4 linked regions of the Homo sapiens genome follow. The protein of the gene in region 2 interacts with the protein of the main gene of each other region in a biochemical or structural test. Each region holds a gene or a part of one and is shown on either strand. Other genes may lie near its edges. The genes, in order: HSF1, PRKCQ, GLRX3 and CARD11.

Region 1 (7,488 bases), on a different chromosome or scaffold from region 2:
TCAGCCTCCCGAGTAGCTGGGATTACAGGCACGCGCCACCACGCCCAGCTAATTTTTATATTTTTAGTAGAGACAGGGTTTCACCATGTTAGCCAGGCTGGTCTTGAACTCCTGAGCTCAGGTGATCCATCCACCTTAGCCTCCCAAAGTGCTGGGATTACAGGCGTGAGCCACCACGCCCGCTGAAAGAATTTAATAAAAAAATCATTAACATGTAAATGTGTAAATCCTTAATTTAAAAAGGGACAGAAGACCCAGAAAGATGTACACCAGACCACTAACTGTGCTCACGGGTTAGGTGTGAGGGCCCTGAGTGGGAGCTTCCACCCTACTGAATGGTGCTGCTACAATATCTACATTATTTTCCAGGATGTTTTATCTCATAATTTTTTTTTGAAACAGGGTCTTGCTTGTCACCCAGGCTGGAGTGCAGTGGCTCTATCATAGCTCACTGTGACCTGGATTCCTGGGCTCAGGAGATCCTCCCACTTTGGCCTCTCGAGCTGCTGGGATTACAGGTATGAGCCACTGTGCCTGGCCCAGTATTGTATCATTTTAAAAACTCAAGAAGGGGTAACGTAGTTGTCCATAATCTTACAAACCACTGCCAACACAGCACATCATTTTTTCTCTGTGTATGTTAGTGGTATAATTAAAGCCTGAATTAAGTGTGATTTTAAATCTTTTCTTCCCAGCAAACAAGCCAACCCAACACAGCTAGCACACAATGAACAAGCCATGGTTCCTTGGCTTCTATCACGGGGACCTCTGCCAAGGCCGTAACTTCCAGAACACCGAAACTACTGGGAGAGTAAATCCTTACAAACGATTTCCAGAATGTTTAGAGTAACAAATGCTGGGCTGGGCGCGGTGGCTCACACCTGTAATCCCAGCACTTTGGGAGGCCAAGGCAGGCAGATCACTTGAGGTCAGGAGTTCGAGACCAGCCTGGCCAACATGGTGAAACCCCGTCACTACTAAACATACAAAAAAAAATTAGCCGAGCCTGGTAGTGGGCACCTGTAATCCCAGCTACTCAGGAGGCTGAGACAGGAGAATTGTTTGAACCCAGGAGGTGGAAGATGCAGTGAGCCAAGATCGCCCCACTGCACTCCAGCCTGGGCAACAGAGCAAGACTCTGTCTTAGAAAAAAAAAAAAAAAATAGGCCGGGCGTGGTGGCTCACCTGAGGTCAGGAAATCGAGACCAGCCTGGCCAACACGGCAAAACCCTGTCTCTACTAAAAGTACAAAAATTAGCCGGGCGTGATGGCATGTACCTGTAATCCCAGCTACTAGAGAGGCTGAGGCAGGAGAATTACTTGAACCCAGGGGATGGAGGTTGCAGTGAGCCAAGATCACACCACTGCACTCCAGCCTGGGCGACAGAGTGAGACTCTGTCTCAAAAAAATAAAAAATAAAAAAAAATAACAAATGCTGTGTTTTAGTTAAATTATGCTTTTCTCCTGTTGTTCTCAATAAGAGTAGGGTGCATCCTCCCCCACCATCGCTGCAACAGGTACAATGTTAAACCCTCTACCCGTCGGCTGCTCAGGCCCCTGAAGCCCTGTGGGGTCAGGCCCAGCTGGGTTCCGTTGGGGCCCCCATGCCGCCTGCTTGAGCCCTGCCATGCTGCTCAGCTCCCTCCTCAGCTGGGTCCTGCCACTGGATTCCAAGCAGTAAAATCCCCACCTCAAGGAAACCCAACCTGTTGCCAGGAGGGTTGCCCGAGCATCGTCTGACGGGGAAGGGCCTAGGCATGTGGATTTTCAGAGTTCCTGGGAACGGCACGCAACTGGGGATGGAAACCAGCGTCCTAGAGCCCAAGCGTGCCCCAGGTGCAGTGAAGGAGGGACGCCGGCCTTGGGGTTCTGAGGGACGGTGGAGAAGGCAGTACAGTGGCAGTCTCAGAAAGCCCAAGGCCACCTGCACATGGGGGACAGCCCTCGAGGGGGCTCCTCGCTCACCCACCTGCACCTGCTCCTCAGTGGTCTTTTTAATCCCACTGTGGCCCTCGTCATCAAGGGCTCCGTCCTCTCCCTCCTCGTCGCCTTCGTCATCATCCTCACTGCTGTCACTGCCGGAATCTTCCAGGCCTGAGAACACACTTTCCTCGCTGTCGGAGACGCCAGAATCGCTGCCGGTGCTGTGGCTGAGAGGAGAGGTGCAGAGGAGGGGGGGCTGCAAGGAAACACTGGGTTGGTGACAACTGCCCCTCCAGGCATGGGGCACTGAACACTGCAGGGAGAGCTGCCTCTCGCCCCTCCAGCCACCCACCAGCAGCTCCATGTGGCCTCCAGGACCACACCCCTCCAGTCACAAACTTCCACCAAAAGCATCCACCCAACCTGAGCCTTCCTCATCTTCTACCTCCACTGACAAGACAGCCTCTTGCCTTTGCCATCGACATTTTAATTCCTAGCACCTCACAGGGAAGGGGCTTTTCAAGGACAACCTCCTCCTCTTGGAGCTCAGCTCTCATCGCAAAACTAACACTGCTCTCTACCACCCACTGACACTCCGGAGGCCCTGTGGGGTCAGGCTGGGCTGGACTCCACTGGGTCCCTCAGACAGCCTGCCTGAGCCCTCTCCACACCTCACCCTGGCATCCAAGGCCCCAGAGCCAAGAGGTCACTAGAAAAGGGGCTGGGGGCTGGAAGAGAAATGGGTCCCCAAAGGGCTTTTACCACCTGAAGCAGACGCCTCCTCATTTAACCAGATTGGGACCAACGATTGATCAGTAAATTGAAAGGATTGGCTGAAGAGTCACAGGAATGATAGAGACTCTAACCGCAACCACGCACCAACCCACCCACTCCTCTCTCTGAGCAGGACCACAGCTGCCTCTGAGCAGAGCCCTGCTGGCTGCGTGACACCGGCACACACAGTGTTCGGGTCCTTCACTGGCCTTAAAGGGTGGAACAAGAACTTAGACTCTTAGGAAGCAGTTGAAGGCCAGGCACAGTGGCTCACTCCTGTAATCCCAACACTTTGGGAGGCTGAGGCGGGTGGATCACCTGAGGTCAGGAGTTCAAGACCAGCCTGGCCAACATGGTGAAACCATCTCTACTAAAAATACAAAAATTAGCTGGTGGTGGCGGGCACCTCTAATCCCAGCTACTCAGGAGGCTGAGTTAGCCAGGAGGTGGAAGCTGCAGTGAGCCAAGACTGCACCACTGCACTCTAGCCTGGGCAACAGAGCCAGGCTCTGTCTCAAAAAAAAAAAAAAGAAAAAAGAAAGAAAAGGAAAAGAAAAGAAAAAGGAAGCAGTTGAATGCAGAATTCTAGATTTTACTGTTTTCCTAATAGTTTACAAGTCTCACTTAAGGTACGACCTGCATGTATTAGCTATTGCATACCGAGTGTTCACACAATGCCTCTCTCACACAGAGTCATGATGTGTCTTGGTATTCAGTCGGCTACACAATCACAATAACTAGTGGAAATGGCATCCGTGGCCTGGGCGCAAACAACTGGCTCCTGAGGACCGTTTAGTCCAAGGGTGGAAGTCGCAGAACCTGGCGCCTAGAGTGGCCTGCGGGCCATTCAGCCCATGGGAGCCAGGATGAGTTGAATTCGCTTCACAAAGCAATGGGGCAGTTTCAACAACCCAGCGCGGCCGCGGCCGAGGGGGCTGTGAGGGGCTGGCTGTCCATCCCCTCCACCACCCAATTTGATGATCCCCACAACCAAGACAGGGCTGAGCTAGCAGAGAGCAACAGTGAGTTCTAATACAGCAAATGCAGCAGACACTGGGTTCTATTCAGGTTTTCTTATTCTCATGTCTATCCCATGAGCATAAAAACGCAATTAACTAGCGTATACGTAGGTTAAGCATTTACTGGGAGCGCAAGCCGAGCCCTTTTATTGGCAGGATGCACAAATGGAACGGCTGGAGAGGCTGCTGCAAGGGGCGCCCCGTCCCCACTCCCCGCTCCCCCGTTTCTTTGCTTCCCGGACGCCGTCCTTTACCCCGCAGTCCGCTCTGCCTGAGACCCCCCGATAGAGGAGCTGCACCCACGCCCAAGACCGATTCACTGGGCGCGGGCGCCCAGGTGACAGAAGCCGGGCCCACCCGCCCCAGCGCGGCCACGTGCCCGCCGGGCCCTCTAGGGACGCGCCCCGCCGCCCCGCATCGCCACAGTCACCTCCGGCTCGGGCTCAGGCTCCAGTTCGGGCTCAGACCGCCGCTTCTCCGGCCGCACGCTCGGCGCCGCCGTGCGCCCCGCACCCCGCGAACCCGCCATGCCCCACCGCGCGCCGGCCGCCACCCGCACAGCCGCTTCCGACAGCGACCGGGCCGCGTGCGCAGGAGGACGCGCCCCGCCCAGCCCGGCCCCGATTGGCGGGTGGAGGGAAGGGGGTGGGACCAACACGCGCAGGCGCGCGGCTGGGCCGGGGACCAGGGCGGGGTCGGGGCCTGCGTGCTCGCGCCGGGGGTGACGCGGGAGGGCGGCAGCGGCGGCGGCGGGAGCGCGCCCGTTGCAAGATGGCGGCGGCCATGCTGGGCCCCGGGGCTGTGTGTGCGCAGCGGGCGGCGGCGCGGCCCGGAAGGCTGGCGCGGCGACGGCGTTAGCCCGGCCCTCGGCCCCTCTTTGCGGCCGCTCCCTCCGCCTATTCCCTCCTTGCTCGAGATGGATCTGCCCGTGGGCCCCGGCGCGGCGGGGCCCAGCAACGTCCCGGCCTTCCTGACCAAGCTGTGGACCCTCGTGAGCGACCCGGACACCGACGCGCTCATCTGCTGGAGCCCGGTGAGGGCAGCGCGCGGGCGCGGGGCCCGTGGGGACCGGGAGGGAGCAGGGCCGCGGCGGACGGCGCGGGAGGGCTGCGGGGAGGGGCCCTGCCGCACTTCAGCTTACGCGCGGTGAGCCTGCCCTGCCCCCGCCAGAGAAGGGCGGCGGGTCCCGAGCCTGCTCAGACCCAGAGCCTTAAGTTGGGAAAGCGGCTACGAGACCCACACTCGGTTCAACCCCTGCCCCAGCGAAGTTTCCCTGGGATGGGGAGAATGGGGCGTCTCTTGTATTGGGCTTCTGCTAACTGTTGGGCGGTTGCGGAAGTGTCCGCGCTTAGGGCAAGCACCCGGCTTCGCCAGCGGACGCTATGCCCCAGAGGACATCGGCGTCCCCAGGGGACAGCCTACGGGGTGCTGGGTCGGCAACTATTAGGAGAAAGTCAGGACTTGGCACGTGAAGTGGAGGGCGTTGCTGTAGTGGAACAGGAAAGGCAGTGGAAACAGTAAGACGTCATGAAGCTTCAGGTTGATCTCAAGCCCGTTTCCGAATCCCAAATCTGGGTTTCCCAAGAGGAGTTTTGTTTTTCATTCCTTATGGGGCATCTTTATTCGTGTTTCTGTCTTCAGTTGCCTGGCAGCAGGCTTGTTTACATGGTCCGACCCTGCAAGACCGGACAGCTCCGGTTTGCAGAAGTAAATCAGTGATTGTCTGGAGTTGGAGATCAGAATCTGCTGTTCACATCCCGGCTGTGACGTCGTGTCCGGTGAGGGGCAGAGCCACCGCCTGCGGCTGGCAAGTGATGACCTGAAGAAGGGCCACACTGGCCGAGTGGGGTGACTCTTGCTTGTAATCCCAGCACTTTGGGAGGCGGAGGCGGGTGGATCACTTGAGGCCAGGAGTTCGAGACCAGCCCGGACAATATGGCAAAACCCCAGCTCTACTAAAAATACAAAAAATTTGCCGGGCGTGGTGGTGCTTGCCTGTGGTCTTAGCTACTTGGGAGGCTGAGATAGGAGGACTCCCTGGACCTGGGAGGCAGAGGTTGCACTGAACCAAGATCCCGCCACTGCAGCCTGGCAAAGAGTGAGACCCTGTCTAAGAAAAAAAAGAAAAAAAAGAAAGGCCACTGATCATTGGGAGCTTTTGGAGGCACCGTGACCGGCAGGGTGCCACCAAGCATGTGTGGCCTCCCAGGAGCTAAGACCCCAGAGTTCTTCAGGCTCTGCTGAGTGCCTCCCATTTGCACAGCCTCTTTATGCTGTTAGGAATGAAGAAAAGTCTAAACTGAAGCTGCCCCAGGCAGGAGGCCAGGTTTTCTGCTTCTTGGGTTTACTGAGGCTCTGCTTTACCTACAGAGTGTTTGGAAATAAAGAGAAGACTGGAAATCTTTGCTCTTGTTAGAAACACTTTGTGTTTGTCCCGCTGACACCTCTGTGTTGGCCTTCCCATCCCCAGGTCCCATTAAGGCACAGTGCACCTTCCTGGAGGCTGGCTTCATTTCACCATCTCTTCATTCTAGACCTTGGATTCTTGTGCAAAGGAAATACTCCCATGTTTCTGTCTTCTTTTATCCGTCTTTTTCTTTTTTCTTTTTTTTTTTTTTAGACCGAGTCTTGCTCTGTCACCCAGGTTGGAGTGCAGTGGTGCGATCTCGGCTCACTGCGACCTCCACCTCCCGGGTTCAAGCAATTCTGCCTCAGCCTCCCGAGTAGCCAGGACTACAGGTGCGTGCTGCCACACCCGGCTGATTGTTGTATTTTTAGTAGAGACGGGGTTTCACCACATTGGACAGGCTGGTCTGGAACTCCTGACCTCAAGTTATCCACCCGCCTTGGCCTCCCAAAGTGCTGGGATTACTGGTGTGAGCCACTGCACCCAGCCCTTCTTCTTTTTCTTATTCCCCTTAATCCTCAGAAGTTAAGGGGAATAACTCCCCCATTGGGGGAGGGGCATCCGCGATTATCTGGGATATTCTAAGCTTAATCCTACTAGCGTGATCTGTCCTGTCCCGTAATCTGCTTGCTGTTTCTGCTTAAAGATTATGAGGCATGTGGGTTAGGGCCCAGTGTACCCTTTTTTGGGACCGAGGCATGTTCTGGGCAGGGCTTTTGAGCAAGGAAGGCAGGTGTGATGAGGCCCGTGGCCAGCCTCCACTCCACTCACAGGTGCACCACCTGTGGATCTGTTCTCCCTGGGGAGGGATGGGGAGCCAACTGGAATGTGAGTGTTTGGTTCCACCTGGTCAGTATGAAGTGGCAATGGTTGGTGCAGGACGTAGCACTGGGGGCGAGCATGGCAATGAGACAGAAACACTGACTTAAAACTGGAAGGAAGCCCTTCTCCAGGCCGCGCAGGGGGCTGCAGAGCTTTCCGGCGCTGGCTGCCTGGCCTGGAGAAAGGAGGTGATCATCCCATCCTGTGACTTTGAGAGCACTCACACAAGCCCTGAGGACTCCCTGTCAGCAGAGTCCCAACAGGGCACCCTCCCACAAATCTACTGCCCAGGCCCAGCTGGCTCTCGGAGGCCTTGAGAAGGCCCTGGTGCTCTTGCTCTCTGCTGCCTTCTCTGGGAGAGTCTCCTTCTGGCTCAGAGTCTTACCACCATTCTGCCAAGAAAAACCCTCCCTATTTGACACAAGAAGATGAGGCAGAATCACAGGCATGGTGACTAACTCTCAAGGCTGAATAACCTGGGGGAGACCGAGGCCCAGAAACTGGCCAGTAACTTTACTGAGCCTGGCCAGGAATGGGACCAG
Region 2 (7,024 bases):
CTTTCATTATTTTAACATGCCAAGCATTTATACATGTCAAATTCTGATTGCTCTGTCATCTAAACACATTCTTGGGGACAAAATGAGCATCAGAGTTTTAAAATTAGGAAAGCTCACTCAAGCCCAGAATCATAGATTTTTGCTCCTGGATTAAATTAGCAAGTATTTGGCAGGACATCTTTCTGCAGGTTGCTGTAGGTTGATGTTAGCTTTTGAATTAAGCTAATAGTATTAATTATAATAATAATAATCAGCATCAACAAAACCAATGAAATATGGTTTTGAGTCTTTATTATTTAGAATTTATGTGCTGTATATCATACTCAGAATTTTATTTATATGTAAGAGGCATTACTGCTTCATTTAACCTCCAAAAGCCTTTATAAATTAGATATTATTATTATTCCAGTTTTTCAGATGAGGAAACTGAGGCTCAAGGGGTAGAGCCCCTTGTCCAGGTCTTATAACCAGTCAGTGGTAGAGTCAGGTTAGTTGGACCATCCAGATTAGTCTAACCATCAAGCATTTGCTTTAAACCGCAGTCCCAGGTGACCTACCAGTTAACTTTTTTATTGTGGTTAAAATACACATAACTTAAAATTTAACTTCTTAACTATTTTCTAGCGTACAGTTCAGTGACATTAAGTATATTCACATTGTTTTGCAACCATTGCCATCATCCATCCACAGGATTCTTCTCATCTCCTAAAACTGAAACTCTGTCCTCGTGGAACATTCGTTCCTCATCCGTCTTTCCTCTCAGCCCCTGGCAGCCACCCTTCTACTTCCTGTCTCTAAGATTCTGACTGCTCTAGGGACCTCACAGAAGCAGAATACAGTATCCATCCTTTTGTAACTGTCTTATTTCACTTAGCATAGTGTTCTCAAGCTGTATCCATGTGACAGCATTGGACAGGACTTCCTTCCTTTTTAAGTCTGAATACTATTCCATTTATGGATATACCACATTTTGCTTATCCTTGTATCTGTTGATGGTTGCTTCTATCTTTTGATTATTGTGAATAATGCTGCCGTGAAGAGGAACACGCAGATATCTGTTTGAGGTCCTGCTTTCAATTCTTTGGGGTATGTACCCAGCAGTAGAATTGTGGGGTCGTAGGGTAATTCTATGTTTAATTTTTTGAGGAACTGCCATATTGTTTTCCACAGTGGCTGGACCGTTTTACATTCCCACCAGTGGTAGAAAGGGTCCCAATTATTCCACATTCTCAGCAACGCTGTCTTTTGTTTTGTGTTTTTTGAGATGGAGTCTCGCTGTGTCGCCAGGCTGGAGTGCAGTGGCATGATCTCAGCTCACTGCAACCTCTACCTCCCAGGTTCAAGCAATTCTCCTGCCTCAGCCTCCTGAGTAGCTGGGACTATAGGCACGCGCTGCCACACCCAGCTAACTTTTGTATTTTTAGTAGAGATGGGGTTTCACCATGTTGGCCAAGATGGTCTCGATCTCTTGACCTCATGATCCACCCACCTTGGCCTCCCAAAGTGCTGAGATTACAGGCGTGAGCCACCGCACCTGGGCTTTTTTAAAAATCTTCTTTATAGTAGCCTTTCTAATTGGTGTAAGGTGCTGATAGTTAACTTTTTACCCAATCATTGAATGCCCAATGGCAGGGATCTCTGGGCTGATGCTACTCCTGAGTTCATTGTTTATTTCCTATCCCAGCTTGAGCATATACACCTTTTTCTAGTGTAGAATTAATGGAGGAAATACAACTCACACAGCACCTGAGGGACTAGGGAAGCCATGGAAAGGACAGTCCCTAAAACATAAACAGAATGTCCCGGTAGGTAGGGTTATCTCCACCTCCATGAGGAACCTTATGATTCAGAAATGAGTAGTTGTTGAGAATAAAGTGAACATGGCATCAGTGTTAATAACCCTGAATGTGTGGGACAGATGCTTTTTAGAAGATTAGTTACAGATATAATTATCTTTTGTATGTTATCAGAGCAGGACAAGTTCCCAGGACAATGGAGAGAATGGAAAGGGAAACTGCTATTGAATTCACCAGGCCTTTGTTGCAAGCCTCAGATCACACACCGTGCTGCAAAACCCACAGGGAGATGTGGTCAGGCAAATAGGAAATTATAATGAATTGTGATGAATTCATGAGATATTTGTACTATTTTGTATCAGTTTATAATGTCATGCAACTCTGTTTTATATTTGCTAGTTTCCTTTCTGTCTCTTTTTTCCTCTAGCATGAAACTCCATGAGGGCTGGCATTTTGTCCCTACATGTGTCCCCAGCCACTCTAACAGGGCCTGACACATACCAAGTTGTGAACAAATATGTGCAGAATGATTGTGTGTTTCAGTAGGGGACACACTTGGTATTATGTGCACAGCTAGATTTGGGGTGTCGCAGAGCTGTCAGTGACGGCTCAACTGAGACCTGAAGGGGAAGTGGCAGTGAGCCAGATGGGGGTTCTGGGAGGTAGGAACAGTGTTTGTAGAATGTCCCTGCAGCATGTGAGTCTGGAATCCCAGTGCAGTCCAGTCTAAGCCTTGCAGATGAGTGGAAATGAGCAGAGTAAGCATCACAGCTTCCATTTAAACCTCTGCTCCCCATCCTAATTTGCCATATGACCTTAACCAGTGAACTTCTTGGAGTGTCATTCTCTCCATTTGCAAAGTGAAGAAAATTGTGATCTCTGATAGCAGTGATGCTGCGAGAAAGGAGCATGTGCCAGTGTGTGGGCTATTGCTGGGTGGAGCTGGAGGAGTCAGCTGTGCCAGATCACATAGGACCTGTAAGCAGGTGAACCATATACGTTATCCTCCAGATGGGGACTGTTTATAGAGTGAAAGAGCACGTTATTAATCACTAAGCTTGGGTAACAGGTACAAACCCAGATTGTCCTGGGCAGACTGTCCCGTAGAGTTGTCCTGCGTTAAGTCATACGAAGGAGTTTGATCCTTTTCTAAGAACAGGAGGAACCCTTTAAATGCTTTATCTACCAATGTATACAAGTGCCATTCAGGTTCTCTCCAGCGTTTCAGAGAGTTTTACCTGCCCATGAACTCACAGCACTCGGCTTGCACTGCAAACTCACCTATACGTTGGCAGCTGTCTCCTCACTGGGCACTTAATTCATGAACAACTAGGAGGGAAAGACAACAAGACAGCCAGGGGTCTGCTCTTTGGCTCTTTGCATTTTTTTTTACGGGGTCTTGCTCTGTCGCCCAGGCTGGAGTGCAGTGGCACGATCTCAGCTCACAGCAGCCTCCGCCTCTGAGGCTCAAGGGATCCTCCGGCCTCAGCCTCCTGAGTAGCTGGGACTACAGTTGCATGCCACCATGGCCTGGCTAGTTTGTGCACTTTGTAGAGATGGTGTTTTGTCATGTTGCCCAGGCTAGTCTCTAACTCCTGGGCTCAAGTGATCTGCCCGCCTTGGCCTCCCAGAGTGCTGAGATTAAAGACATGAGCCACCACACCTGGCCTAGCTCTTTTCGCCTTTAACTGGAGTGTTAGCTGATATCAAGAACACATCTTTTGGGTTTTTCTTTTTTTAACCTTGTAACACCTAAAGGACTGCGGCTAAGTGTTAAAAGAAAAAAATTTCTATCTGGTGGTTTAAATATCTGCAGAAGCAGAATCCTTGTCATCCTGAAATTTTTTCCCTGTGGGCAAGAATTCCTAATAAGCGTACAATCTATTGGAAAAATCAAAAAGTAAACAAACTATGGCAATATATTCTAACATGTATTGACTTGTCACTATCGGCCGTTTGCTGTGCTAAGCACTATATGTAGATGATTGCTTGGGTGCTTTGAGAACATGTAGAAGGGAACCAAGTCCTGATTCGGAGGTTCAGGAAAGGCTTTCAGAGGACAAGGTATCGCGGGTGGGGATGGAAGATGTATGGGAATTAGCCAAAAGGACAGGGGTTCAGAGGTGAGCCAAGTCTGTCCTGAAAGTAAGCAGAAATGTTGTTGTTCTTGTCGTTTTGAGAGAAGTTCATCTCAGCTGTGTTCAGCATTTTTAGGGCATAAGCTTCAACATTTTCCGTTCTGTTTTCACTGATATGTTTTAGCTATACAAAAGCAGGCCTTCTACACAGTTTTTCAAACTCCAAGACACAGTCTACTAGTGGGCAATGACATTAATTTTGGGGGTGATAACAAGCATGAAATAGAATAAAACAGAAAATATTAAGATGCATTTCATGTAGGAAGGGTAATTATTTCATGAAACTGTATCATTTGGTTTGGGACACATTAAATCTGTTCGTACCTAAAAGAAGACATTCATGCAGCCAACAAACATGGAAAAAAAACCCTCAATATCACTGATCATTAGAGAAATGCAAATCAAAACCACAATCAGTTACCATCTCCTGCAAGTCAGAATGGTGATTATTAAAAAATCAAGAAACAACAGGTGCTGGCAAAGTTGCAGAGAAATAGGAACGCTTTTACACTCTTGGTGGTGGGAATGTAAATTAGTCCAACCATTGTGGAAGATGGTGTGGCAATTCCTCAAAGATCTAGAACCAGAAATACCGTTTGACTCAGCACTCCTGTTACTGGGCATATATCCAAAGGAATATAAACCATTCTGTTATAAAGATACATGCACACGTATGTTCATTACAGCACTATTCACAATAGCAAAGACATGGCATCAACCCAAATGCCCACCAATGGTAGTCTGGATTAAGAAAATGTACATACACACCATAGAATACTATGTAGCCATAAAAAGGAATGAGATCCCTGTCCTTTGCAGGGACATGGATAGAGCTGGAAGCCATCATCCTCAGCAAACTAACACAGGAGCAGAAAACTGGACACCTTATGTTCTCACTTATAAGTGGGAGCTGAATAATGAGAACATGTGGACACAGGGAGGGGAACAACACACACTGGGGCCTGTCGGGAGGTGGGATTGGAGGGAGGGAGAGCATTAGGAAAAGTAGCTAATGCATGTGGGGCTTAATACCTAGGTGATGGGATGATAGGTGCAGCAAACCACCATGGCACGTTTACCCATGTAACAAACCTGCACGTCCTGCACCTGTATCCCAGAACTTAAAATAAAAATAAAAATTAAAGAAAATTACATACCTATGGCATTTAGTTTTCTATACCATTCCTTTAAGTCATAGAATCAGATGAGCTCAGGGGCTAGAAGGAAGAGGGAGCGATGGGAAGGCAGTCGTTGGTCATGCCCTGGGCCTGGATCGCGGGAATCAGTCATTCAGAAAGCCCCATATGTTGGGTGGGTCTCACAGCTTACAGAGAAGCCAGCTGAGGTGTGCAGGTTAAGAAACTTGATCTAGGGTCACAGATTAAATTACTAGCGCTGACCCCTGATCTCTTGGCTTCTGATGTGGTGGTATTCTTTCCATACCTCCAGGGACTGTGTTCCCAAAGTTTGTTAGTTAGGTGGCTGTTTAGGGAAGGACCACACCTGGTTCCTGTTTGTTTGTTTCTTGGTTTGTTTGTTGGTTTGTTTGTTTGTTTGTTTTTGAGGCAGGGTCTTGTTCTGTTGCTCAGGTTGGAGTGCTGTGACTCAATCTCGGCTCACTGCAACATCTGCCTCCCAGGCTCAAGCAATTATTGTGTCAGCCTCGAGAGTAGCTAGGACTACAGGCATGCACCACCACACCTGGTTAATTTTTATGTTTTTAGTAGAGACAGGGTTTCACCATGTTGGCCAGGCTAGACTTGAAATCCTGGCCTCAAGTGATCCTCCTGCCTTGGCCTCCCAAAGTGCTGGGATTACAGGTGTGAGCCACCCCACCTATCAAGGGAAGATATTTTCTTAAGGGGAGTATGTAATAACAACCATGTCCCTGGTTTGTTAGGAAGGTTATAAACTTTGAAATATACCCATCAGTTTCATAAAGAGCAAGACAGGTTAGGAAGAAATAGTGTTCATTATACAGACTAGAGAGCTTTCAGCTTGACATTGACAAATATAAACTTGGCCACTGTCCCTCCACTAAAGCGTTTCCCTTGCTGCTGGGGAAGGACCGCCTGGTGATGTTGTGTGAGATGATGCACTTTCTTTGCCCCCTCTGTGGTCACTGGGATCACAGCTAAATCCAACTGTCTGCTTTTTCCAGTGTCTACACATAGGCTGATGAGTTCTCCCGGAAAACACGCCGCTCTGCAAATTCAGGATGCCGTAGCTCTGTGACTTCCCACTCCATCTAGGATCTCTGTCTTCCCCAGCTCCCAGACGTTTCCCTGGCCAATGATCTTCCTTCCCACGGCAGCTTCTCCACAGCTGCTCCTGCCTCCGCCGTCCCCTCGCACTCAGCAGCTGTCTTGCCTCCTGCTTCCCTGAGAAAGTACAAGTTTCCCGATTCAGAACTGCCCCCACCTGGGGATCACAGGGCTGCACGCCTCACTTTATCTGAATCCATCCTCTCATCCTTCTTTTCTTTCACAACGAAAGAAACCCCTCAGTTCCAGCCAGGCACAGTGGCTCACATCTGTAATCCAAGCACTTTGGGAGGCCAAGGTGGGTGAATCACTTGAGGCCAGGAGTTTTAGACCATCCTGGCCAACACGGTGAAACCCCGTCTCTACTAAAAATACAAAAATTAGCCAGGCGTGCTGGCGCATACCTGTAATCCCAGCTACTCGGGAGGCTGAGGCAGGAGAATCGCTTGAACCCAGGAGACAGAGGTTGCAGTGAGCCGAGATTGCCCCATTGCACTCCAGCCTGGGTGACAGAGCAAGAGTCTGTCTTAGAAAAAAAAAAAAAAAAAGAAGCCCCTTAGTTCCTGTCTGAGGCTCACCTCCCCTGGGGCCCTGGAATCCATTTCTTTCTTGTTCTTGGGAATCTCAATCTCTTATCTTCCCTGTCACCTGCATTTTCCTTCTCTCCCTCATTTCTGGCCCCATTCTCTCTGTATTAAGTGCGCTTAAATCCCTTCCTTCTGTGAAAAAAAGAATATATATCCTTTTATACCTTCCTCCAGCTACTTCCTTGTCTTGCTTCTCTTCACAATCAAACTCCTCAAATTGTTGTCTACACTTGCTGCCT
Region 3 (7,024 bases), about 120 Mb from region 2:
CATGTGCCTGGACATAATGGAATCTCTGGCTGGTTCTGGTTTGATGAATGACTTTTAGGAAGCAGGTGCACACCTGTGCTTCCAGGCACCCATGGGTGTCATCGTAGTTCCCCAAATACCTCATTTATACTTAGTAATAGATTCATTCCAGCCAATGTGGGGGCAGTCTTTTTTGTATTATGTTAGACTGACCTGATTTGACTTTGAGATGTTGCAGTGTTTTCTCAGTGTGTTTCTGAGAAAAGAAAAAAATTATGTATTTCTAAAATTGAGATGCAGTGCAGGCAATTGGCAATGAGGGTTTCTTTTTTTACATCTCCGGTAATACTGTTGTCCCCTTTAAAAATCTGCTATAACAATGTCATTATTATGGAATGCTGCATGTATTCTAAATAACTTTTTAAACTTTAGAATTCTCAGAAAATCGACCGATTAGATGGTGCACATGCCCCAGAGTTGACCAAAAAAGTTCAGCGACATGCATCTAGTGGCTCCTTCCTACCCAGCGCTAATGAACATCTTAAAGAAGATCTCAACCTTCGCTTGAAGAAATTGACTCATGCTGCCCCCTGCATGCTGTTTATGAAAGGAACTCCTCAAGAACCACGCTGTGGTAAGAAGCTGCCTTTAACATAATATAAACAAAATGGGTGCTTTCCCAGAATGGGGTATGGTTGAGATGGGCATCCTGTTTCCAAGGATGCTATACCATACATCTTATACTTGTGTTCACATACTTTTAGAAAATCAAAAAGGTTATAATTCCCAATGACACTATATAAGAATTAGTTTGCATTATGGACTCAGCATGTTGGAACCAAAAGGGGTCTCAGAACTCATCTAATTCAGATTTTTGTTTTATACTGAAGTCCTCAGACTCAAAGATAGAGGTGACTTGCCCAAGGTCACCTGGTAAGCAGAGTTAGGATTAGGTTCCAACTACCATATTGCTGTCTCTTTTGCCTGTTTATCTACTTTTGCTGTTAACAGTTATTTTTTCTTTCTTGGCAGCCTCCTGTTTTTCACCTAGTTCAGATTCAGCAATTAAAAAATTTGCGGAATTTTTCAGTGTTTTTGTGTCCAGCCTGTGTGCTTTTGCCTCCCCTGTGTCATCACTGTCTAATGATTCTCTTCCTGCATTGCTGTCATTTCCAGTTTATAGCTGCTGGTAATGGAAAGATTCCGAATTCTTGGCTTGTAGTCACTCTTATTTTCTGTACACATGGATGCTTATAATTTTGTCCTTAAGTAAGTTTTAGAGTTATTTGACCCCTCTGGTAGTGGGTTTATGTTATTTTCTTTTTACTGTGCCTAGTACAACATTAGTATGCTGCATAATTGAGCATTTAATGCCATTTGATGATGCTGTTGAGACTCTAAGAGTATTTGTATCAACTACACAGGAGGGACTTTATTAAGATAGGGGCAGTAACATTGAGTATGCTCTTGATATGATTACAGCATGTCCAGAGTGACTTTATAAAGATAGCCAAGCTTCTAGTGTGAATTTGATTCTAAATTCTTCCCTGTAGGGTTATTAAATTACATATTAGCTTATGATAATGTCTAGTTTTAAAAATAAAGTTTCATGATGAATTCTTATTTTTTCGAGATGGAATTTCGCTCTTGTTGCCCAGGTTGGAGTGCAATGGCACGATCTCAGTGCGACGGAACCTCTGTCTACTAGGGGTCAAGCGATTCTCCTGTCTCAGCCTCCCGAGTAGCTGGGATTACAGGTGTCCACCACCATGCCCGGCTAATTTTTTTGTATTTTTAGTAGAGATAGGGTTTGTCCATGTTGGTCAGGCTGGTGTCAAACTCCTGACCTCAGGTGATCCGCCTGCCTTGGCCTCCCAAAGTGCTGCTGGGATTATAGGCGTGAGCCACCATGAATTCTGTCTTAAAAGTATCTCTTAGTTCTGCCTAAAAAATTTCCCTGCCAGTATTTATGTGTCAGATAATGCCTGCTATTTGTGTATTGCAAAGCTAACTTAGTCTGTACTAAACTAAAGGTAGCAACAGATAGTCTCTGTTGCGTTTGTTATTTTGTTTTTAACGGGGGTTGCAAATGGTTCACATTCACCTTCTTCCATGAAACATGAAAATTATTTCTTGTACTTTGTGCGGTGGCCACTAAATGGGAACTTACCACTTCAGTTGAATGGATTGTATTCAGCACCTTCATTCAGATCTCAGGTACAGTAGAACTGGCTGTGAAATGTGGGTGAAGCACACCTACAGTGAAATCTCTACAGTATTCTCTCCTTTGGGGTTGAACAGCAGCAGTCTCAGTCTTTTCTGAATGATAAACCTAATGAAAAGGCAGGTGGCAACACTGAAGCTTGGGGAAGGAGTGCTCAGAGGAGAAGGATGTCCTGGGAAGTGTGCTGCACTGGGTGTCATGCCAGGCGAGCCTCAGGCCCACCCCTGCGGCCTTAGCAACTTTGGGGACAAGTCAGGTACCCTCCTTGTGCCTTTAATTCCTTCTAGTGCTGTTGGGAACAAGATTGGCTGTTGGAGCCAATCTTGGAGGGCCTTTTCAGTGTAGATATTGTATGATTATTCAAGTAAATTAGAGAGAAACTTAGACATTTTAATTTTTCTGCTTACCTTTTACTTTATTAAACTGAATTTAAAATATACTGCTAGCATTTTTATATTTATATTAAACTTATTTAAATTATGTTTATTATAATGGAGTGAGATTTGGAAGACTGTACAAATAACAGAATAAAAAAGAAGCTTTGAAATATTTCAGGGCTGGGCGTGGTGGCTCATGCCTGTAATCCCAGCACATTGGGAGGCTGAGGTGGGCGGATCGCTTGAGATCAGGAGTTCGAGACCAGCCTGGCCAACATGGCGAAACCCCGTCTCTACTAAAAATACAAAAATTAGCTGGGCATGGTGGAGTCCTGTAATTCCAGCCACTTGGGAGGCTGAGGCAGGAGAATTGCTTGAACCTGGGAGGCAGAGGTTGCAGTGAGCCGAGATCGAGCCACTGCACTCCAGTATGGGTGACAGAGTGAAACTCTGTCTCAAAACAAAACAAAACACATTTCAGAGCCATCTGAAAACGTAGTATTATAGTTATTTAATTAATAAAAGACAATAAATATTTTGAGATACATATGGTTGAATGGTTACAGTTTCTTCTTTTAAAGTACTTCTATATAATTTTTATAACTACATTTTCAGTGGGTTTTTCTGTTTCCTGATATTTTCTGTTTCATGTCTTTCTGTCACATATAGTAAATAGATCATTTAAGAATGTTGCTGTTCTTTAATAAAATACTTAGGATTAATTGGAAAATATTTTTAAACTGTTTTCTTATGGGAACATAAGTCACCTCGACCCTCTGCTGTTCCTTTCTGAGCCTGGTTAGTGGAGCATTGTTTTTGCTCTTCTTCTGGCATTTTAGAGAAGGGCGTAGGCAAAGCTCCCTTTATAAAAGCACTGGCCATCTCATCTTGTGAACACGCACGTGGCTGCTCTTTCCTTATTTTGCACCAAATTAGCTTTGAAAGTGCTATCTCTGCTAACACCACTGAACTCCCACTGCGGAGTATTTTGATGTTTGTTTTTTGATTAGTTTGTCCCCACCTTGCTTTCTGCTAATCAGAAAAACATGAATGAATAACATTTAAATTTTATATCTAGAAAACCTTGAAAGCCATTTTTAGGGTCTCTCCTGGAGCCCCACTGGACTCAGCCTAACCCCTGCACAGGTCATGTCTCCATCTTCTTATCCTTCATGTGGGCTCTACCTGCAGAATTGTATGGTGTGTTATGAGCCTGACGTGTAGATAGGGTCTCAGTTGAAAAGAATTGGATTGTCCTTACTCTGTGCTCCTCATGAAGATGGGAAAATGCTTGTTTTAGGAAGAGTTTCCAGAAGCACTGAGGTATATGTCATCTTAAACAGAATCTTAAATCCTTGAGCAGGTTAATTATTTGGGAATTCTTATAACTATTTCAGTTAACAAAGCTTTTAGCAAAGCAAAAGGTATTTGAGGCATAGTCAGATATTCCTTCTGCAGTGAGAGTCATCCAGCCGGGCTCTTACTTTTGAATCAGCCACAGAATCAGGTTTCAGAGATGTTTTTTAGGGTTTATTGTTAGGTAGTGATGAGATGCGGTGTTAGGCACCTATTCATGTCATGAGTAGAAATGACTGGGGGTGGAAATGGGGATTCTGTGGCAGTTAAACATTACTTTTCTACATTTAAATATTTTTATTGCATGCATGCATTTTTCTTAAAAAAAGGTGTGTAAATATTTTGTTACTAGAATAAAGCCTTCTTGCCATCTTATCCTTAAGCGTAACATTTCTAGTCTGCCACTTTAACTCTTAAAAATGAAACACTACCAATCAATCTTTCTAGTCTGCATGTAATTGCCTAAAGCTAAAATAAAGCTTCTTCTCAGCCAGTTACAGTAAAAATGAGTTAATATATTGGCAACAGAATAACCATCAGCAATCAGCCGTTAGCTGTTTACTAATGAACTCCCAGATGAATAAAAAAATTTCAGAATCAGTGTTTTACTTCAGGCTGTACATGAACTTAACACTTCAGATGTAGGAAAAGCAACTTATATGCTATACAAATAAATACTAGTGCTTCATCTCAATAAACTGCAGATTTGGAAAATGTTTAGAGCTCACTTGTAGATCCATGTTTTAATAGTAAATATGATTTTGGGTGACATCAGTAAAGCCCATTCTTGCAATTAATCTTATATTGAATTTTATGGTTTGATTTTATTTAAAAACAATTGCTGACACTGCTAAGTCTTATAGAAATTTTGAATCTGAAGAATAGGTTCTTTTCCAGTGAATTACAACTGTGTTTGAGAAGAAGAATGAGGCGTGAAAGAGTAGGGCCCTACATAGTATTGGGAACAATGGAGAAGAATTAGCTTATGGAAAGAAAAATACTTTTTTTTTCAGACTAGGCTAATAGGTTTATAAAAGACTGATATTCACACTCTTATTCTTCAGTTATAATGTCATAATAAGATGATGTCAAAAAAGTACAGAATAAAAATGTGTCACAAAAGTATAATAAAATCATGGAACATAAAATTGTCGCTATAGTGTAGTAAAAAAATTACATTACATACTTTAGGGAATGTAAATAGTTTTAAAAAAGAAACTGTCAAGTTATGACATGAGATGAGAAAGAATACCGTCAATCTATTGATGGTTCATATATAACAACAGAGAAGATAGCTTTAAAATTCAATGTACTGTGTGTATTTTAGACTACAGGAGAACACATGCCTTCTTGATTTCTAATTTATCCTACTTAGAGATAGTGAAGATTGAGAACTACTGAAGTGGGAACTCAGGAAGTAGTAAAATGGCAGTAGAAATGCAACAGCATTGGGTTTTAAGTATAGTCAAGTAGTAGTTAAAAATAACAATTGTAGAATTTTTTCATCTGCCCAGAATTGATTCTCATAGATTCATAACAGAAAGGCTGGGAGGGACTGTCAGAGCATCAGGTCAGTCTCCTGATTAGTAGGAAAGTGCTGAGCGGAGGCCACCCATGGCCTCATCATGTGTCACCTTGGTGGGTGGAGGGAGCAGGTGTCAGATTCAGATTTCTGGTTTTGTTTAAAGACAAGGTCTTGCTTTATCACTCAAACTGGAGGCTGGAGTGCAGTGACAATCTCATAGGTCGCTCCAGCCTCAGACTTCTGGGCTCAAGTGAGCCTGTTGCCTCAGTTTCCCCAGTCTCTGGGATTACAGGTGTGCACCATCACCCCCAGGTCTCTGCTTTTTGGCTAGTGCTATTTCTCCTGTGACAAAAAATGTCCATGATATTGAAGAATAACTTTAATAAATACACACACCACTTTTTTTTTTTTTTTCAGTAGTCACAGTTGTGTCAAAAAGTTAAGTCATATCTGAGTGTGTGATATGGTTCAAGGTCAAATAAGGGGATCCAGGAATTTATTTTCTCTTTGTATATTATTCAGCCATGCTAATTAAATCACCAGCAAAATAAGGCAGGCGTCTATGTCTTTTAGATGATATGTACGCTGAACTAATGTATTATCATGTGTATGTGTTTTGGGAGAGAGAAGTTAAGTGCTTTATTTCTTTTTTTGTGTACAGGTTTCAGCAAGCAGATGGTGGAAATTCTTCACAAACATAATATTCAGTTTAGCAGTTTTGATATCTTCTCAGATGAAGAGGTTCGACAGGGACTCAAAGCCTATTCCAGTTGGCCTACCTATCCTCAGCTCTATGTTTCTGGAGAGCTCATAGGAGGACTTGATATAATTAAGGTTAGAATTGAGAAGTCTGTGCTTTGTAAAGAAATTCCATTTAGAGCATACTTTTTAAAATGTTGTGATAAATCTAAGATACAAATTTCTTATGAATCTATATTTACTAATAAGAACCTGCAATGAATACACAGTATTTCTGATTAGTTGATTGATCAATAATCTGTGTTATGGTATGATCAAGGAGATTTATGTTATAATAATTTTTTTCATAAAACTGGTATGTGTGCTTATTTTAGGAGCTAGAAGCATCTGAAGAACTAGATACAATTTGTCCCAAAGCTCCCAAATTAGAGGAAAGGTAAGTGTTTTAGAAGGTTTCAAATAGCCTATCATTTAATATATTAAAAATATTTTAAAGTCCTCAGGTTTTGCATTGCTCTTTCTGTGTAGAAATCAAGGATTTGGTATGCCAGACGTCATAATTGTTTAGTCACATTAGCCATTCAAACTTTGGCAAATCTAATTTGTATTGGAGAAATTTTAGCACCAACTTAGTGATCATGTGGAGGATCTGCTTTGCTTTTATAGAAATGTCATTGTTTCTGTGGAACAACCAAGTTTTGCTTACCTCTCTGCATTTCAGAGCCAGGGTCCAGTTGTTTTGTCACTGCTCCTTGGCGTAACCTCAGCACACTCGTGTTTTACTGGGTGCAGCCTTGGTGACTGCTGCGGGTGCTGCCCCAACGCCAGAGCACTGAGTGACAAGTGGTGAGTGTGAAAAACTCA
Region 4 (7,024 bases), on a different chromosome or scaffold from region 2:
ATCTGAAGGGATGAAAGGAGCCAACCATGCAAGTCTCAGGGGAAAGCACTCGCAAAGCCCATAAGTAGGGGGCATTTTGTTTTTGTTTTTGTTTTTGTTTTTGAAGAAACAGCAGGAAGGCTGAGCTTGATGGCCCACACCTGTAATCCCAGCATTTGGGGAGGCCAAGGCGGGAGGATTGCTTCAGTCCAGGAGTTTGAGACCAGCATGGGCAACATGGCAAAACCCCATCTCTACAAAAATAAGCCAGGCATGGTGGTATGCACCTGTAGTCCCAGCTACTAGGGGTGATAAGGCAGGACGATTACCTGAGCCTGGGAGGTCGAGGCTGCAGTGAGCCATGCCTGTCAAAAGAAAGAACTAGAAGGAAGGAAGGAAGGAAGGAAGGGAGAGAGAGAGAAAGAGAAAGAAAAAGGAAGGAAAAAGACAGGAAGGGAGGGAGGGAAGGAAGGAAGGAAGAAAGGAAGGGAGGAAGGAAGGAAAGGGAGGAAGGGAGGGAGGAAGGAAGGAAGAGGGAGGGAGTAAGGAAGGGGAGGGAGGGAGGAAGGAAGGAAGAGGGAGGAAGGAAGAGGGAGGGAGGGAGGGAGGAAGAGGGAGGGAGGAAGGAAGGAAGGAAGAGAAACAAATGAAAGAGAAAAGAAATGGCAGGAGAGTCAGTGGGGCCAGAGCCAAATAAACAAATGGTGCAGAAGGGAGTGGAAGGGATGGCGGGGTCCAGATCATGGGGGCATGGTAAGAACTTTGGGATTTATTCTAGTTGTGATGAGAACCCTCTGAAGGATTGAGAGCTGAAGAGTGACAATTGATTTATGTCTGAGAAGGATCACTCTGGCTGCTGGATGGAAAATAGACTCACAGAATATTTATTAAGCACCTGCCACGTGTGAGGCACTGTGCTAAGCACTGTGGGAGACATGGGGATAAATAACGTGAGCTGTGCTCAGGTCACTTACAATTTAGTGAAGCAGACAGATCCGTAAACAATCCACCGGGAATTCAGGTGAATTGAGTCAGTGGCATAGCAGGCAATAGTGTTTTGGTTAGAAGCATGAGCTTTGTAAGTCCTGTAGCTTTGAGTTCAAATTCTGGCTTTATGCTTTACGACTTACTTAGCTATTGGCCTCAGTTTCCTCATTTGCAGATGTCAATAATGAAAGTAATACGTGTGCCCTAGGATTGCTGGGATACTGAACCGTAGGTCTTTGGCGGAGCGGCTGACCCTGTAAGCACCCCACAATGCTAGCGCCCCATGCCTGCTCGTGTGGGACCCGGGACTTACCACAGGACACTTGGGTTAAGCTTTGAAGATGCTGAGGAGCTTTTTTTTTTTTTTTTTTTTTTTGCATGAGCAGGAGAGATTTCTATGCTGTTTTTACCTAGGATTTGGGGAAGTTACCCTGTGGCAGAGACTTACAAGTTTCTCTCCCGGAACTTCCTCCTGTGTTATGTTTCCCTGGAGATACATTAATAGTGAGAAAGTGTAAGTAGAATTTGGAAGAACATCTGGCCAGCAGAGTCCCTGGCTGGTTTTCTTGGCCTCGGGCTGCTTCCTGCACGCCCCTTTCTTCATCGTCTCAGGTTAATCACTGGGGTGCAGGAGCTGGTCTTTTCTTGCTAAAGCCACTGCTCTCTACCTGCCAGATTCCTTGAGATGATTCTCCTTCCAAGACTAGATTTGAAAAATGACACTCTCCCCTTTGGTGCCTCCTTTCTTTATAGCCCTCGAATGCAACCTTCTTGTTTGGGATACTTTAGCAAAGCCGATGTGTTTGGGGAGGAACACAGGTTAGTCTCACAGGTTGAAGAAGTCTTCTGCTGGTCCCAGTTCCTGACACTAAACTCTTGAGTGTGAAAATCAGCACATCTCCACTTGTCTCATTTCCAGATGCAATAGCTGCCTCCTCCAGGAAGCTACTCTTTCTGCCACTAAGTCTAGGGAGGTTCTTTAGGGTGGAGATCCTGTGAAATTACAATTCAGTGAATTTCAGGCTGTCTTCTTCTCCTTCTCCTTTTCCTTCTCCTTCTCCTCCTCCTCCTCTTCCTCTCCTCCTCCTCCTTCTTCTCCTCCTTCTTCCTATTATTCTTCTTTCTTCTCCTCCTCCTCTTCCTTCTTCTTCTTTCTTCTTCTCCTTCTCCTTCTTCCCCTTTCTCTTCCTCTTCCTCTCCTCCTTCCTCCTCCTCCTCTCCTCCTCCTCTTCCTTCTTCTCCCCCTCCTCTTCTTCCTCTTTTTCCTCTTCTTCCTCCTCCTCTCCTTCTCCTTCTCATTCCTCCTCTTCCTCTTCTTCTTTCTCTTCCTCTTCTTCTCTTTTCTCTTCTTCCCCTTCCTCTTCTTCTTCCTCTACTTTTCTTCTTCTCCTCCTTCTCCTGTTTTTTCTTCTTTTTCCTCTTCCTCCTCCTCTTCCTCTTCCTTTTTAGCAACAGTGCTATTTATCCAAATAAAATCTTGTGTGAAACCCAGAAGAACAAACCACACAAGCAGAGCTGTTCTGGGATGTGAAGTCAGTGTGGATGCCCAGAACCCCAACTTGTCAACCATCTCCTCCTTCCCCCTGGGTAACCCCTGGATTCCTCAGGGGAATCCTTGAGTTCCGAGGATCAGAATTTGAAACCCATCAGAGAAGGGCGTTGAAGTGGGAAACACCAACTTGGATCTCTTTTATCCCAAAATCCATAACCTGTCCCACCTGACAAAGGTTGAGGGAATTTTCTCTGAGGCCTGTAGCCCCTTTGGAGCTATTCTAAATAGACTAATCAGGAACTCTCCATCAACAGGGTGATGACAGTTTGTTTTACTGGAGAAGGTTTCTTGGAGCCCTTCTCTGCCCGTGGAAGAAGGAGAGAGGGGCATAACTCAGGTTATGCTGCCAGCCCAGTGGGATCGGGGGAAGCGTTGCCTTTTCTGAGTGTTTCTTGCCACCTGCCTTCTCCCCTGGGCACCCTTGGGGTATTTCAGATCGATCAGCTAAAGCACCGGTTGAATAAGATGGAGGAGGAATGTAAGCTGGAGAGAAATCAGTCTCTAAAACTGAAGAATGACATTGAAAATCGGCCCAAGAAGGAGCAGGTTCTGGAACTGGAGCGGGAGAATGAAATGCTGAAGACCAAAAACCAGGAGCTGCAGTCCATCATCCAGGTGAGGGCCTGGGGGCGGGGCCAGCGCGGGCAGTGGGAGGGTGAGGGCTTGGGGTTGGGGGAAACGATGAACCTGCCAGGGTGTGAGTCCCCAAGCCTCACCCATGCTGACTGCAGGATCACAGGCATGCGTGCCATCCTTGGGCACCTTTGTCTCCTCCTCTGTAAAGCGGTGACCCCCACCACCCATTTGTCAGAGATAGGATATCATACTTGGGAAAACATGTGCTTATTTGAAGCACTCCAGGAAAATCACCAACCACGTGGAAATCAATGCCCTGGGCACTGTGGGAAGAGACAAGGACATCTAGGAAACCTACGTGCCCTTAAAGATTCCAAGAAACTCAACTGTAAGCTCCGTGCCTCTTGTTCCAACCTCAAATGCCTCCCCACACTTGTCATCGCCGAGTCACTTGTGGGCACAGAGGAGGAAGTTGCTGAGGAGTGACATCCCAAAACATATCTACAGGGCAAGAAAAAAAACATGCATCCTCCTGCTCCCTCCAGAACAGTCCCCCCAGGAGTGGCTGCCTGGTATATGAGGCTCTGTTTCAGAGCCGAGGATGAACCCAGCTTCTCCAGAACAGATTCCTTGATATTTCAGGGGCAGCATCTAAAAAGTGTTTCGGGTGCAGCAACTGCTTCTCTGCGCTCCGATAAGCGCCAGGGAGAACAAAAGGCCCAGGATACGCCCAAGCAAAAGCCAGTTTTCTGCTTCTTTCCAGGCAATAAACTTCTTAAATGCTAAGCTTCTTAGAGACCCCAGGGGACATACATCTCTTCTTGCCTCTACCTTCCAGGCACAAAACCTTCTGCTCTGTCCGTATCTGTTGCTGGTTCTTCTGTCCCCTGCCCTCCAGGACCACCTGGCTCCCCACCCCGACCCTGACCCTCTGAAACCTCCTCCCTCCCACCCAGGCCGGGAAGCGCAGCCTGCCAGACTCAGACAAGGCCATCCTGGACATCTTGGAACACGACCGCAAGGAGGCCCTGGAGGACAGGCAGGAGCTGGTCAACAGGATCTACAACCTGCAGGAGGAGGCCCGCCAGGCAGAGGAGCTGCGAGACAAGGTGGGAGTGGGGATCGCCCGCCCAGCGGTGCCCTCGGCCGGCCCCCTTCACACCAGGGGGCAGTGGTGTGTGTCAGCAGGACCTCCCTGACCCCACACTCCTTTCCAGGGACTAGATCAGACCCCTGGCATAAATCCCCTGTACCTCCCAGTATTCAGCCCCTGGCAGAAGCTGCAGTTTATCAACCAGATGAGGGCCTGGGGGTGGGAGCAATGTGGGCAGAGGGGAGGGTGAGGGCTTGGGATTGGGGGAACCCACATACCTGCCAAGGTGTGAGTCTCAGAGCCTCACCCACACCTTGCGGATTGCAGGATCCCAGATGTGCCGGCCACCCTTGGGCATGTACAAGCTATTGCACCAGCTTAGCACCTGTGTCCCCCTCCTGACTGAGATCACATTGTCCTCCCCTATGTTACCTGGTCTGTAGTGGGTTCACAACAATGCTGGGTTGATTGGTCTCCTACCTTGAGCCCCAACAGTCAGATAGTCGGTTCCCAGAAGGGCAGGCCATGTCCTGACCATGCCAGCTTAGGGAGGGACAGGCCAGCTCCAGCCAGCTGGCGGGAAGGCACGAGCAGAGAACAGCTTTCAGTCCTGACCTATTGATTGCTCGATGCGCATATTGATTTCTCTGTGTGGTTCACAGTACCTGGAGGAGAAGGAGGACCTGGAGCTCAAGTGCTCGACCCTGGGAAAGGACTGTGAAATGTACAAGCACCGCATGAACACGGTCATGCTGCAGCTGGAGGAGGTGGAGCGGGAGCGGGACCAGGTACAGGCACCACCTGCAGCGTGCAGGGCGGCGAGGCTGCACAGCGGGGCCCGCACCCCAGACCACCGGCTCCTTCAGAGTGTTTTGTCCAGTGCAACATCACTGACAATGCAGGGATCACTCCTGAATCCATCTTTCCCATTTCTGTTCCAAAGATGAATTCTAAAAGATGAATTCCAAAAGGCTTTTTTGGAAGTCACAGGCGTTTGGGTAGCAGGGGGATCCGAGCTGGGCTCCAGCAGCTCCCACGACCAAGCATGGTTCTTAAATGTTGTGTGTTCTCTCGGGTGAGAGGATGGGTTCAGATCCAGCCCTGTCATTCATAAGGTGTATGCCCATAGGCAAGCTGCCACCCCTGACCTCAGTGCCCTCATCTGTAAAATGGGGATAATTACGGTAGCACCGCCTCATAGGGACAGGCTGTGGCCTTCCAGGGACACTGCATCAAAGCTCTCAACACAGAGCCTGCCACTAGCAAGGGTCGGACCATCGGCTCTGTGATCGCGTTAATGAAGAAGGTAGTGACTGACACGCCCAGGGGTCAGACTGCAGACGAGAGCCACAGACGATGTGGCTGGCCCCTGGGTTGGGATGATGCCTGTCCCTGGGCCCAGCTGGATTTGGCTGGGGTGCAACCCCCAAAGCAGCCTTCGTCCCGCTTCTCCCTGGCAGGCCTTCCACTCCCGAGATGAAGCTCAGACACAGTACTCGCAGTGCTTAATCGAAAAGGACAAGTACAGGAAGCAGATCCGCGAGCTGGAGGAGAAGAACGACGAGATGAGGATCGAGATGGTGCGGCGGGAGGCCTGCATCGTCAACCTGGAGAGCAAGCTGCGGCGCCTCTCCAAGGACAGCAACAACCTGGACCAGGTGGGGCGGGACGGGCAGGACCCCACGCCTGAAGCCAGGTGGGCCCTGGTGCCCACTGAGGGCTGTGGCCAGTCCCCACCTCCCCGTGGAGACCCACACCTGAAGCCAGGTGCCCCCTGGCACCCACTGAGGGCTGTGACCAGTCGCCACCTCCCTGTGGGGCCCCAAACCAGAAGCCAGGTGCCCCCTGGCACCCACTGAGGGCTGTGACCAGTCGCCGCTTCCCTGTGCAATGAATGGCTCCTTGTCCTTTGTTTAGTTTTGTTTTGCTTTTGAGACAGGGTCTCACTCTGTCGCCCAGGCTGGAATGCAGTGGCACTATCACAGCTCACTGCAGCCTCAAACTCCTGGGCTCAAGCAGTCCTCCCACTTCAGCCTCCTGGGTAGCGGAACTAAAGGCACACACCACAATTCCTGACTAATTTTGTAATTTTTTTGTACAGACGAGGTCTCACTGTTTCCCAGGCTGGTCTTAAACTCCTATCCTCAAGCGATCCTCCCGCCTCAGCCTCCCAAAGAGCTGGAATTACAGCCGTTTGCCACTGTGCCCGGTTGGCTCTTCATATATTTGAAGCCGGAAGTTCCCTCCCACGCCCAGCATAATCCACATCTTTTACTGTTGTGTTTGTGTCTGTTTAGTGATGAGTGGAAGCCACTCATTTTGAAGTTAGAAGATGCAGGGTAGGGCTGGGCACAGTGGCTCATGCCTGTAATCTCAGCATTTTGGGAGGCTGAGGTGGGAGGATCGCTTTAGGGCAGGAGTTCAAGACCAGTCTGGGCAACAGAGCGAAAATTTTTAAAAATTTAAAAAATTAAAATTAAAAACATAAATAAGAAGATGCAGGGCGCCAGGTGCGAGGGTTCACGCCTGTAATCTCAGCACTTTGGGATGTCGAGGCAGGTGGATCACGAGGTCAGGAGTTCAAGACCAGCCTGACCAGCATGGTGAAACCCTGTCTCTACTAAAAATACAAAAAAATTAGCCAGGCGTGGTGGTGCGTGCCCATAGTCCCAGCTACTCGGGAGGCTGAGGCAGGAGAATCGCTTGAGCCCAGGAGGCGGAGGTTGCAGTGAGCCGAGATCACGCCACTGCACTCCAGCCTGGTGACAGAGCAAGACTCCATCTCAAAAAAAAAAAAGGCAAGCTTGACCTGGCCACTTCCTTGCTGGGCAGCCTCT

Evidence for each region.
Region 1: of the proteins of PRKCQ (region 2) and HSF1, one has a biochemical effect on the other in vitro, tested with the Homo sapiens proteins (one study listed by IntAct).
Region 3: the proteins of PRKCQ (region 2) and GLRX3 form a complex in vitro, tested with the Homo sapiens proteins (one study listed by BioGRID).
Region 4: of the proteins of PRKCQ (region 2) and CARD11, one has a biochemical effect on the other in vitro, tested with the Homo sapiens proteins (2 studies listed by BioGRID).

Annotation. Positions count from the first base shown.
Region 1 is NC_000008.11:144,287,125-144,294,612, forward strand, and holds the start of HSF1 (heat shock factor protein 1), read left to right. Parts: upstream 1-4,479; 5' UTR 4,480-4,633; coding exon 4,634-4,750; intron 4,751-7,488. Other genes in the region: ribosome biogenesis protein BOP1, read right to left, coding at 1,971-2,180, 4,148-4,246. UniProt on the Homo sapiens protein: Functions as a stress-inducible and DNA-binding transcription factor that plays a central role in the transcriptional activation of the heat shock response (HSR), leading to the expression of a large class of molecular chaperones, heat shock proteins (HSPs), that protect cells from cellular insult damage.
Region 2 is NC_000010.11:6,570,276-6,577,299, reverse strand, and holds part of PRKCQ (protein kinase C theta type), read left to right. Parts: intron 1-7,024. UniProt on the Homo sapiens protein: Calcium-independent, phospholipid- and diacylglycerol (DAG)-dependent serine/threonine-protein kinase that mediates non-redundant functions in T-cell receptor (TCR) signaling, including T-cells activation, proliferation, differentiation and survival, by mediating activation of multiple transcription factors such as NF-kappa-B, JUN, NFATC1 and NFATC2.
Region 3 is NC_000010.11:130,160,385-130,167,408, forward strand, and holds part of GLRX3 (glutaredoxin-3), read left to right. Parts: intron 1-411; coding exon 412-613; intron 614-6,122; coding exon 6,123-6,295; intron 6,296-6,534; coding exon 6,535-6,596; intron 6,597-7,024. UniProt on the Homo sapiens protein: Together with BOLA2, acts as a cytosolic iron-sulfur (Fe-S) cluster assembly factor that facilitates [2Fe-2S] cluster insertion into a subset of cytosolic proteins.
Region 4 is NC_000007.14:2,935,858-2,942,881, reverse strand, and holds part of CARD11 (caspase recruitment domain-containing protein 11), read left to right. Parts: intron 1-2,953; coding exon 2,954-3,133; intron 3,134-4,050; coding exon 4,051-4,203; intron 4,204-4,849; coding exon 4,850-4,975; intron 4,976-5,647; coding exon 5,648-5,845; intron 5,846-7,024. UniProt on the Homo sapiens protein: Adapter protein that plays a key role in adaptive immune response by transducing the activation of NF-kappa-B downstream of T-cell receptor (TCR) and B-cell receptor (BCR) engagement.